Homo sapiens: one gene and its partner. The protein of the gene in region 1 interacts with the protein of each later gene in a biochemical or structural test. Each region holds a gene or a part of one and is shown in the gene's direction. Other genes may lie near its edges.

The links.
Region 2: of the proteins of DCN (region 1) and BMP1, one has a biochemical effect on the other in vitro, tested with the Homo sapiens proteins (one study listed by IntAct).

Annotation. Positions count from the first base shown.
Region 1 is NC_000012.12:91,139,971-91,144,836, reverse strand, and holds the end of DCN (decorin isoform a preproprotein), read left to right. Parts: 3' UTR 1-4,353; downstream 4,354-4,866. UniProt on the Homo sapiens protein: May affect the rate of fibrils formation.
Region 2 is NC_000008.11:22,168,366-22,175,397, forward strand, and holds part of BMP1 (bone morphogenetic protein 1 isoform 3 precursor), read left to right. Parts: intron 1-5,236; coding exon 5,237-5,350; intron 5,351-7,032. UniProt on the Homo sapiens protein: Metalloprotease that plays key roles in regulating the formation of the extracellular matrix (ECM) via processing of various precursor proteins into mature functional enzymes or structural proteins.

The DNA of each region.
Region 1 (4,866 bases):
TCTGCTAATAGTAGCAGAATGAGTGCAGTGGAACATGAAAAACTTGAGGAGATAACAGTTGAGGTGGGTTTCCATAGATGCATAATAGTTCAAGAGCAAGATTTGGTGGGGAGGCACTATTCAAGACAGGGACTAAGTTCAAAATCCAAGACGTATGCTGGGACACACCTCTGACAGGTTGGCATAAAGGAGGCTTAATCAAACTATTTTTCTTCTTCTGAAACAGAAGCAATAATTTTCATTTACATTTGACATATCCCGAGGTAATATTAACATTAGGGAAAGTTACTCTTTTCCATCTTTCCACATTCTTGCAGGACCATAAAATCTGAATTTTCCAGTATTTTTAATAAGAGGGAAGAAACCTCTCTTTTTCTTCTCTTTTTCATCTCCCAAGAGATCCTCCTCTCATGACTACAGTTGAATAGGTGGTTTCTATTGGAAGACATTCAGGAATTCAAGGTGCATGTCCATAAATGGACTTTTTTTGTTGTTGTTCAGAGCTGGACCTTGAATGATGCATCCTTCTCTCTGTTGTAACCATGAATAATGCACCCTTCATGCTATAGCCTTTAACGATTCACCCTTCTTATTGTAACCTTGAATGATTCACCCTTTATGGTGTAGCCTTGAGTGACGCACCCTTCATGTTGTAGCCTTCAATGATGCACACTCCATGTTATAGCCTTGAATGATATACCCTTTATGCTGCAGCCTTTCTCTTATGGGGAAAAGCCTGCAGATATCCTGCTGCTTAACTGACAAGTGTGGTGAGAAATAAGTAGAAATCTAAAGAGGGGAAGACCATTTTGGACACTTATCTGCAAGGCAGATCCAACACACTTTTCCAGTAGTCAAGCTACTTCTAATTTTGTTCAGTATCAAAATGAGAAACAGGCCTGATTCTCCAGCACTCTTGTCAACACAACTTCCCCCCATATTTATATATATACACACACATATATATCTTTATATATATACACACATATATATCTTTATATATATATATTTATATATATATCTTTTTGCATATATACATATATATGTATCTTTATTTCCTTTGAAATAAAGATAAATATAGCTGATTTCTTTGGCTTCGACACTTACTATTTGCATGACTAAGGGAAGCTAGTTAACCTTTCTGTGACTCATTTCCTTGTCCATAAAATGGGAATATTAATTGTACATGTCTTATGGATTGGTGTGTGAATTCAGTTAGCGAGTGTAGAATATAACTTATAGATCAAAGTAGAGTAAATGGAAAGGGCTCAACTATGGTGTTGCTACTGCCATTGTTATTACAGGCACACAGTTCGAGCTATAATCATTTCAAGGGAAATTCTTATGTGTCAGTTCTGGATCGAGGTCTGAGATTCTGCATTTCAAACAAACTTCCAGGAATGCTGCTGCTTCTTGGTCCACACTTGGAGAAATAAGTCAGCAGAGAGTCCTCTCGTTTCCTATTGTACCATGTCTGTCTTTTGTCTCCTGCTTATTGGCCTCTGTAAGGAACTCACAGCTGCTATAATAAAGTACCAAAAACTGGGTGGCTTAAAACAACAGAAACTTACTTTCTCACAATTCTGGAGGCTAAAAATTCAAAATCAAGGTGTCAGCAGGGTCAGATTCCTTCCAAAGCCTTTAGGAGAGGACCTTTCCTTGCTCCTCCTAGGTTTCTGGTTAAATCTAGGTGTTCTTTGCCTTATGGCAGCGTGACTCTAATTTATGCCTCCATCTTCACCCTCACATGGCCTTCTCTCTCATGTGTTTGTGTCTTTTCTCTTCTTCTTCTATGAACATGAGTTATATTGGATTAAGGCTCACCCTAATTTAGTATGAACCCATCTTAACTTGATTATATCTGCAAAGACTCTATTTCCAAATGAAGTCAGACTCACAGGTATTGGGGGTTTGATATTGAACATATCTTCTGGGAGGAGACACAACTTAATCATTAATATCCACTTTCTTTTTTCCTTATTAAATGTTTAATTTTTTTGTTTTCATTAAAACTGTTGTTCGATTATGGGTGCTTCACATAAAAGGTTGGAAACTTAAAAATTTGTCTCTGACCCCTCCTGGTTGGAAAGGCCTCTGTTGTACATTTATGCTAGCCTAGGCCATACCACTTTCTGTCTTCAGTACAGCCATCTTAGTTTATTCAAGTGACACAGATTTTCCAGAACACAGTATTCATGATCTTTTAAAGCATTTTTCTTCAAAGACTTTGATCTGGCAATAAATGTTACTATGTAATTCTCATGACATAAATTAGGCATAACTTGGATCTCCTCTTCTTCTGCTCATTCATTTGTCTGAATCATCACTATTATCTTTTTTATATTCCTTTACCGTTCTCCATAATGCTTTTCCAAGAAACTGGTTTATTCCACAATTTTATTGCAGAGGCAGCTGCAGGATATCATAATCTTATCTTTATACGAAGGAAGAATTGCCTAATCCCTCAAGTAAACTAAAAATGTTTTATACAGTCATTTCTCATTCATCCAATGTTCCAGGCAGTCCCAGTCCAAGACTGCCCCTTCACACACACAACAACTCTTCACAAGACTTCACTGTCCTTCAGACTCTCCTGCAGCACAGACATTCGAGGTTGCTGAGTCGACATTGCAGTTATTTCACTCTTGATTTTGCTGCTCAATTTTAAGTTTCCACACTTATTGCTAAAACATTCCTTCTAGTGGATCTGTTTATGTATTCAAGCACACCATCTGTCACAATTATTTCAAATCACAGGTCTGTGACAGACTGTCAATTTCACACCACAAAGTATAATAGTGGAAAACAAAGTAAAATCAAGAAAGGGAGAACACTAAACTTATTAAAACCATATACAAGCATACGCATTCAGGAAACTAAAACAACCTTCAAAGAAGTTGAACAATTTTGAGCCAAAAGAAAGGGCATATGCACACCCTACCCCAGTATAAGATAACCAGAAAAGGACTGGGTGAGTTGCCTCCTGAGTATTATGACTGCCATCAATCACTTAGGCATTGGAGATCAGGAGACTCTTCCCAGGCCACACATTCTGCAGTGACTGTGAGGGCTGAATGAATGCTTCCAGGCCATCAGGAACAAGCATAGAAACACAAATCAATTTTAAAATACACTCAAAAATGTCAAAATAATCCAACTTTTTTGTCTTGATCAGATATATCTACTAGCACATATTACTTCATTTTTTCAGCCAATATTTATTAATAACCTACTGTGTGCTTGACAGTGTTCTAGTGGCAGAGACACAGCAGTGCATAATGCCTTGCCCTCTGAAGCAGATGTTGCAGCAGGAGGAGACATTCCAGGACATGACAATTAAAGTGGAGGAATGTCAAGCAGAACTGGGGAATAAGGGATGTGAAGGGGGTGAGACTTGCTATTTTATATAGGATGGTCGGAAAAAGGACTTATCAGGAGTGACATTTGAGCAGGGAGATGAAGAACTGAAGGGAGCAAGCCAAGAAAAGAGGCCCTGAATTTGGAAAATACATGGCACGTTCCAACAAGAGCAGAGAGGACAAACGTGAGCAGAGTAAAGTGAGCAAGAAGAGATAATATATGATACAAGGTCAGAAAGGTAATGACAATCGCATCCTGTAGGACTTTTTAGGCCATTGTAAAGATGAGCTTTTACTCTGAGTAAGACAGAGAGCTATTAGAGGGGTCTCGGTAGAGGAGTGACTTGATTCAACTGTCTTTGAGAGGATCCCTTTGCGTGTATAGACTGTAAGGTAACAGGAATAGGCCAAGAGAGAATATTTCGGATGCTAGTGCAATAATCAGGTGAGAGATGATGAAGACTTTGACCTGGATAATAGTAGAAAAATTGTTGAGAAGGGATCAAAATATGGGGTTTGTTTTGATGGTAGAGAGGCCAGGGATGGCTGAATGATCAGATGGGGCATGAGAGAGAAAGAAAAGAAACAGAGATGACTTCAGGAATTTTGGCCTGGGCCACTGGAAGGATGAAGTCACCATTTACTGAGATGGTAATGACTGGGAGGTTGAGCTGGAAGAACTGAGAATCAAATATCTGGTTTTGAATCTGTTCTTTTTGAGATGCATATTCAACTTCCATATGGAGGTGTCAAGGAGGATTTAGATCTAGAATTTTGGAGCTCAAGGGAAAGGGTTGAGCTGTAGACATAAATTCTAGAGATGCCGGAATATAGATTGTGATCCTTCTTTATCAGCACAGAAATGACTTGACTTTGTCCAAACTAAGCAATCATACTGTACATGTTAGCAACACATTTTACAGGGCCAATTTGGCCTTTTGCAATGTTCTGTGGTTTCTAAGATAAATAAACATATTATATGTTTCCCTCTGGATGCCTTTGCTATGATCCTGTCAGCATTTCCAAAACAGTTCTTGCTTGAACACCACCAAGGAAAGAAAAAAACCTCTTGAGAAAGAAATCATTGTTTTTTTTTTTTTTTTTTTAAATCCCTGTGTTTTGGCTTATGAGTTTAAAACTTACAAAAACAGTCTAGTTTCTGTTTTCTTCAAGAATTCACATTAACAAAAGTGTGGCTTGGTGCCTGTTTTGAATGTGAGTTGATAACTTGCTGGTGGTTTGACAGTTATAAACAAACAGTCTTATAGCATAAAGAAAGCATATTCCTGAAACTGCAGGAGGTCTCATTGAGCCTCAGGCACTATACCAGCATGTTTAACTAGAAAATCATGAAAACACATACAACTTCTATAGCTAAGGCCATTTTTACATGGAATTGCAGCATAAAATGACTCCATCTAATTCTGTAAAAGTTTATATTGATGACTACTTTATAAAGCACCCATATTGCCACTTGGTCTGACAAAGATATGTGAAAAATATAAAA
Region 2 (7,032 bases), on another chromosome or scaffold:
GCCCCAGGTGACTAGCCAACACCCCCCCGGAGAGACCTTGGAGGCAGGAATTGGGACACAGTTGATCCCAAAATCAGAGAAGCCCAGGGGCCTGACCCCACAGGGGTGGGGCTAGAAGCATGTCACACCCAGAGCTGGGTAGTGACCCTGTGCCAGTGAGGCCCCTGCTACCACCTCAACCTCATCTGACAGCCCAGAGTCTGCAGGAGCGGGAGGGGCAGCACTTACCAGCCCACATCCCCATCCCACCCAGGGGGACGCCTGGCCAAGGTTTGGACATCAGAGAGCCATAGAGGATTAGGGTACACCCTCTGAGGTCGAGAAGTAATCTCTCCTCTCACCAGACCACATTCCCCCTCTAGACAGCTGAGTCACCCCACCCACCCAGGCCCCTGCCCCTGAGTCACCTTCTTATTTCAGTGCCGCAAGGGGTGAGGAAAAAATTTGTACTCTCCCTGGGCCCTACATGGGGCAGGGCGGGGCAGTGGGGTTCCCCAGGAAGAAGGGATTCTTAAGAAGTCTAGGCAGGGGGCAGTGGCTCATGCCTGTAATCCACTTTGGGAGGCTAAAGTGGGAGGATCACTTGAAGCCAGGAGTTTAAGACTAGCCTGGGCAACACAGCAAGATGCCCATCTCTACAAAAAAATTTAAAAATTAGCTGGGCATGGTGTCATGCACCCGTAGTCCCAGCTACTTGGGAGGCTTAGCTGGGAGGAGTTGGAGCTCGAGAGTTCAAGGCTGAGTCCAGGAGCTGGAGGCTGTAGTGAGCTATGATTGTGCCGCTGCACTCTAGTCTGGGTGACAAAGCAAGACTCTGTGAAAAAAAAAAAAAAAAAAATCTAGTTTCTCCAGAGATCTGGGGAGAAGATATTGCGGTCGGGGGAGTAGAAGCGCTACTCCTCAGTCCACTAAGAACCTCCTAAGGAGATCCAAGGGAGTCAGCTAATCTCTCTCTCTCCCTCCCTCGCTCTCTTTGTCTCACACAAGTGCATCCCTGTCCATTTCTAAGTGCGCCCTTGTCCTTTGGGGAGTGTGGCCTGTGAAACATGGTGCATGCCTGCAGTTATGTGTGTGTTTGAAAACACAAGATCCTGCACGGGGAAGTGGTTGAGTGTGTGTTTGTGCATATGCGTGGGTGTGTCGCTGCCTTGTAGGCAAGCATGTTCACCTGTGATCGGTCTTCCTGAGTACATGCAGGCATGGAGGCAAACATGCACCTCTGCAGAAGTGTTCACATGTGATGAAGTCCATCCACATGTTTGCAGGGGTTTGAGTGTGTCATCCCCCAGCTAGAAGCTTGCGTTTGTGCAGTGGGACATGCATCAGTCCTGCACATATAGCCTTGGGGCTCATTACACCAGCCAGCCTCCTCTCCCCACTTCCCCAGAAGGGGAGGCCTTGCCATGCCCTGGGGGAGGAGACGGTGGAGTCCAGAGGTTGACCTGAAAGAGTGAGATTCTTCCCAGGCACAAGCACACAGATGGGCTCAGCCACAGTGCTCCTGGCAGGTTTACAGCTGGAAAACAACACAAAAAATTTTTATCTTGTGTTGAAAATAACTACTACCCTGACCGTGACCCCAGGGCTTCCTCTGAGTAAGGAGAGACCTCCTAGACTCCTTAGCATCCAGATTCCCTCGCTTCCCCAGAGGGCAGCCCAAAAGCACAGAGCCCCAAGGCCCAGCTCCTGCCCCTAAGGCTCTCCTGCCCATCTCCTCTCTCCCCACCCCCACTTGGTTCCCACGCATTCTTCAGCCATGACATCCTCACTCCAGGAGCTCAGCAGCCAGGGCCATGCCCTGCCCTGCCTTGCACTTGCTCTGCCCTGGTTCTACACTGGCCCTGGACCCGCAGGCCAGCACAGTTCTGTGGCCTCTGCACCAGGGTTTCACTCAAGGAGGAGTGGGGGCAGAGAGTGTGGGTGAGCCAGCGTTCCCTGAGGAGGTCTAGAGCTGACTTTGAGCTTACGGGTTGTGTTGGGATAATATTAAAGTGGCTGGTGGGTGCGTACCGTGTTGCATGCTCTGTGCTGGGGGTTCGTGTATATGTCTTATTTCATGCAGTAATCCTAGGAGACAGATTCTGTTATGTAGGAGAACACTGAGGCTTAGAAGAGTTTACATGACTTGTCAGCTAATAGTAGCCAACCTGGATTCCAAGACAGGTCTGTCTGACTCCAAAGACCTTGCCCTTTGCTCTATGTCCAAAGGTGAGTCTAAATGTCCAGCCACACCTGTATGCGGTGATGCCTGTGGGTTTGGGTGTGGGAGCCTGCAGGTACAATGCCTGTGAAAGGTATAATATGTGTGTACGGGCACAGTAGCTTATGCCTGTAATCCCAGCACTTTGGGAGGCCAAGGCAGGAGGATCACCTGTGGTCAGGAGTTCAAGAACAGCCTGATCAACAAGGTGAAACCTCGTCTCTACTAAAAAAAAAATACAAAAATTAGCTGGGCGAGGCTGAGACAGGAGAATTGCTTGAACCCAGGAGGCAGAGGTTGCAGTGAGCTGAGATTGCACCACTGCACTCCAGCCTGGGTGACAGAGTGAGACTCCATTTCAAAAAAAAAAAGAAAGAAAGGTATAACACAAGCCTAAGTGTGGAGGCATTCGTGTGGCAGATGCACATCTACGTGAACTTTGGTGAGTATGAACCCACTGCTTCTTCCTTGGAGTGTACCTCCCATCCCATGTCCTTGTTAAGGCCACTCTTGCATGTCACCTGGGAAGCATCTTCTGTTGCCGTCCCATCAGTTGCTGAGCCAAGGCCACCTGCCGAGGATGGCGATTCAAGTAAGAGTAGCTTTCTCATGGGTTGGAAGAGATTTGGGGTCACTTACTGGCTGGTGACCTTGAGTGAGTTATCGCCCTTCATAGGCTCAAGTGTTCTGATGTCTAAAGTCAGGGAGGTGGGCTGGAACCTAAACCTAGCCACTTAGGTTATCTCTCTCTGAGAGTTTCTAATGCTCTGCAAGAGCATGGTGTGGAGTGTGGCTTACTGGGCATGTTGTGGGCAGGCCAGGATTAAATTAATTAATGGGAAAGCACTTTGCCAATTGGAAAGCACCACAAAAATTTCAACATTTACATAAGGTGTCATTATCACGACTATTATTTGCTTAATGGGTCCAGAGCTTGCAGCTGGTTTGTGTATGTTGGAGCTTGTGCATGTGTGTTTTTTAAAAACCGTGTGTGACTGTGTGTGTATTTTGTTGTGGATGTGTCCGTCTGAGTATCTATTTTTGTATATATGTATTTACAGTAGGGGTTCTAGAGAGTGCAGTGGTTGCTGCACTGGGAATGGGGAGGCCTGAGTTATACGTCCAGTTTTCCAGTGACTAGCAGTGTAGGTTCAGTTAAGTTGTTGCTTTTGGGACCTCAGTTTCCTCATCTATAAAATGGAAGTTTGGCCTCGATGACTGCCACAGTCACTCCCACATTCTGTTGATCCTGTCTAGGTGAGGGTGTGTCTCTGGGCATGTATTTGCAAGCCAGAAGAATATCAGCGTGGCAATTCATTCATTCGAACATCCCGGAGTGCCTCCCGCCTGAAAGTGCAGTGCTGGCTGCTGCTTTCATGCGCAAGGATGTGTGTCCCTGGCTTTGATGGCTCTGCACTGGATGGCAAGGGTGTGGACGCCACCATATGTCTGTAGGAACACTAACCTTGGGTGTCTGATTCTGTATGTGATGAAGTCAGTGTGTGTGTGTGTTCACCAGTGAGGCCAACTGGGGAGGAGAAACCTGTGTAGAAGTCTTCAAGGTTAAAACAATTTGTGTAACGCGACCGCCAGGCCTGTATAGCACTCTGCCTGGATGAGAAGCAGATGTTGCTGTGGGTGGAGCTGCAGGGAAGCTGCTGTGGGTCCCACCTGTAGCCCAGCCTCCCACTTCCCCCAGCCCAGCCCAGCTCAGCATGCAGCTCCCATCTGAGCGCCTTACAAAGCGGCCAGTTCTATGGCCTCTGCTTCCTTTTCTCCAGACTTCTCAAAAGGAAGACAGACAGTTCAGCCGGGTCTCTGGAAACATCCCTCCTCAGCTCCAGATACTGGAATCGGAATGGCCCTTTAGGGAGGCTCTCTTCCCCTCTGGCCTTTCTGCTTGGGCAGCCTAAGACTTGGAATAGGAATTACTTGAGAACTGTTAAACTTTTTCCTCCTAGCTGGGAAGCTCCCAGAAGGTATCTTCGTTTCCCAAAGATGCTTATCTGTTCTAATGAAAAATGGTACAATTTTATTTCCTCTTTTTTTTTTTTTTTTTTTTTTTGAGACAGGGTCTCACTCTGTTGCCCAGGCTGGATTGCAGTGGCATCATCTCAGCTCACTGCAGCCTTGACCTCCTGGGTTCAATTGATCCACCTGCCTCAGCCTCCTGAGTGAGTAGCTGGAACTACAGGCATGCATCACCATGTCTGGCTAATTTTTGTATTTTTTATAGAGACGGGGTTTCACCATGTTGCCCAGGCTGATCTTGAACTCCTGAGCTTAAGTGATCCACCCACCTCGACCTCCCAAAGTGTTGGGATTACAGGTGTGAGCCACTGCACCTGGCTTATTTTATCTCATAGACACCCCCTTAGTTAAATTGAAACAGCATTTGCTGAGTGACCACCACATGCTCAGCACACCCTGTTTTATTTTCTTCATAGCTCCCATTGCTATCTGGAAGACCCTAGGTCAGTATTTATTTACTTGCATATTATGGAAGGTTAGCTCCACCGAAGCAGGGGCCTCTTCTGTCTTGCTAATAACTAGGGTATTGTCTGGACCACAGTAGTATGTTAACTAAGTATTTGCTGAAGAATGATGGCTCTGTGGCTCACACCTGTATTCCCAGCCACTGGAGAGGCTGAGGAGGCTGGAGGATCACTTGAAGCCAGGATTTTGAGACCAGCCTGGGCAACATAGCAAGACCCTGCTAATTTTAAATAATTAGCTGGGCACAGTGGTGAGACCCTATCTGCCCCACACTCCCCAAAGAATGATGAGCTAACAGACTGGTAGGGGCTGAGCATCAGCTTTACTGGGATTTTAACTGAAAAGTAAGCATGAGCTTCCCAAGAAATTCTATAAGCTGATCCCTAACTGCCCTTCTCCTTCTCGTTCAGATGGCATTTGAGGATCACAGTCGCTGTGGAGGTTGGGGGCTGGTGCCCACAGGGTTGGGGCTAGAAGCACGGTGCACCTAGGGCTGGGTAGGAGGATTAACTCAGCCCTGGCTTCTTCTTTTCTCTTTAGCTGCCTTTCTTGGGGACATTGCCCTGGACGAAGAGGACCTGAGGGCCTTCCAGGTACAGCAGGCTGTGGATCTCAGACGGCACACAGCTCGTAAGTCCTCCATCAAAGCTGCAGGTAAGCCGGGTGCCAATGGGCCCTCTGTGTCCTAGAAATGGGTTCCAGGCTTAGGGAAACAAGGAATCTCCCTGTTCCCAGCCAGGCCCTCCCAGGACAGAGGCCATGAGTTTGACCCCAGCACATGGGTCTATCTTCCCTCGGGATATCTTCATCCCTTCCCCAGAGGAGTAGTAAATATAGATATCCCCAGCAACTAAGAACTGACATTCTTTTTGTTTACAGTTTAAAAACCACTTTCAAAAGTATTGTCTAGCCTGACTGTCCCCAACCACCTTTAAAGGTGGTGTCAGGACAACTCCTGTTTTACAAGTACAGAAACTAAGATTCACAGAGGTAAAGTGACCTGCCCAGGATCACACAACTAGTGAGTGGCAGAGCTGGGACTGGAACTCAAGCTTTCTCACTCCAGACCTGAGACTCTGCCCAACACTGCAATCCCTCCTGGGCTCTCTGTTCCCACTTTGCAAATTTCTGTGCATCCTCTGAGGCCCATTTCAGGAGCTTCTCCTATTCTTCTTTCCCAGTTGCCCCCGAAACATGACTGTCCCTTCATTTTCCCTGTTTTCTCCCTCCTCTGTGATCACACTGTTACCCTGTCATTTATCACACCATATTGAAAGGATTTGCTCCTATGTCTCCCTAGCTCTTTAAGGTCAGGGATGCTTTCTTCTTATCCTTGATTGTGGTCCAAACTCCTAAAAACCCATGTGGTACTTGTGCATGGATACAGGAATGGGAGGGATGAGGGCCTGGGCTGTGTCTGTTCTTTCCAGTCCCTTACTGCTCTGTAGAAGGGTGAAAGCTCCTCACTGCCAGTGCTGATGTTTGAGACATGGTCCTGAGAGCACACAAATAGCCCTCCCCTTCCCAAAGGGCAGGGGCAGGGATTCTTTCTTCTTTTTTTCTGTCTTTTTTTTTTTTTTTTTTTTTTTGAGACAGGGTCTCAGTCTGTTACCTAGGCTAGAATGCAGTGGCACCATTTCGGCTCACTGCAACCTCTACCTCCTGAGTTCAAGCAATTCTCGTGCCTCAGCCTCCCAAGTAGCTGGGACCACAGGCATGCAACACCACGCCTGGCCAATTTTTTATATTTTTAGTAGACACGGGATGTCACGGTGTTGGCCAGGCTGGTCTCGAACTCCTGGCCTCAAGCGAACTATCCTCCCTGGCCTCCCAAAGTGCTGGAATTACAGGCGTGAGCCACTGTACCAAAGGGCAGGGATTCTTATTGAGGGTCTGCTCTGGGAACACTGTGGTGTGCCTGAAGTTGTCCTGTCCAGCTTGAGGGAAGATCCTGATGTGGGCACCTTATGGAATAAAGTACCCCAGAGGGCAGGTGGCATTGGAGGGTGACCTGGTGGCCTGCTAACAAGTAAGGCTCATGTGACCTTAGTGGGGACTAGTAGGTATGGCACAACGGAAAGCTGCATGGAGGGGTCCCCTGCTAACCCACCAGGTGACTTTGGCCAAACCTTTGGCCTTAGTTTCCTCATCTGTCAAATACAATACGACACTTGTCCACATGCCTTAGAGCTCCTATGTCAAATGCAAACATGAATTTGGGAAATCAAAAGAAGGCATAGAGTTCTGAATGCTCCACAAATGTCAAGGTTTATTCAATGAGAAGGGATATTTTCCTAATCTCAGATCCCCACAATTCCTAGAAAATGAGTACACCT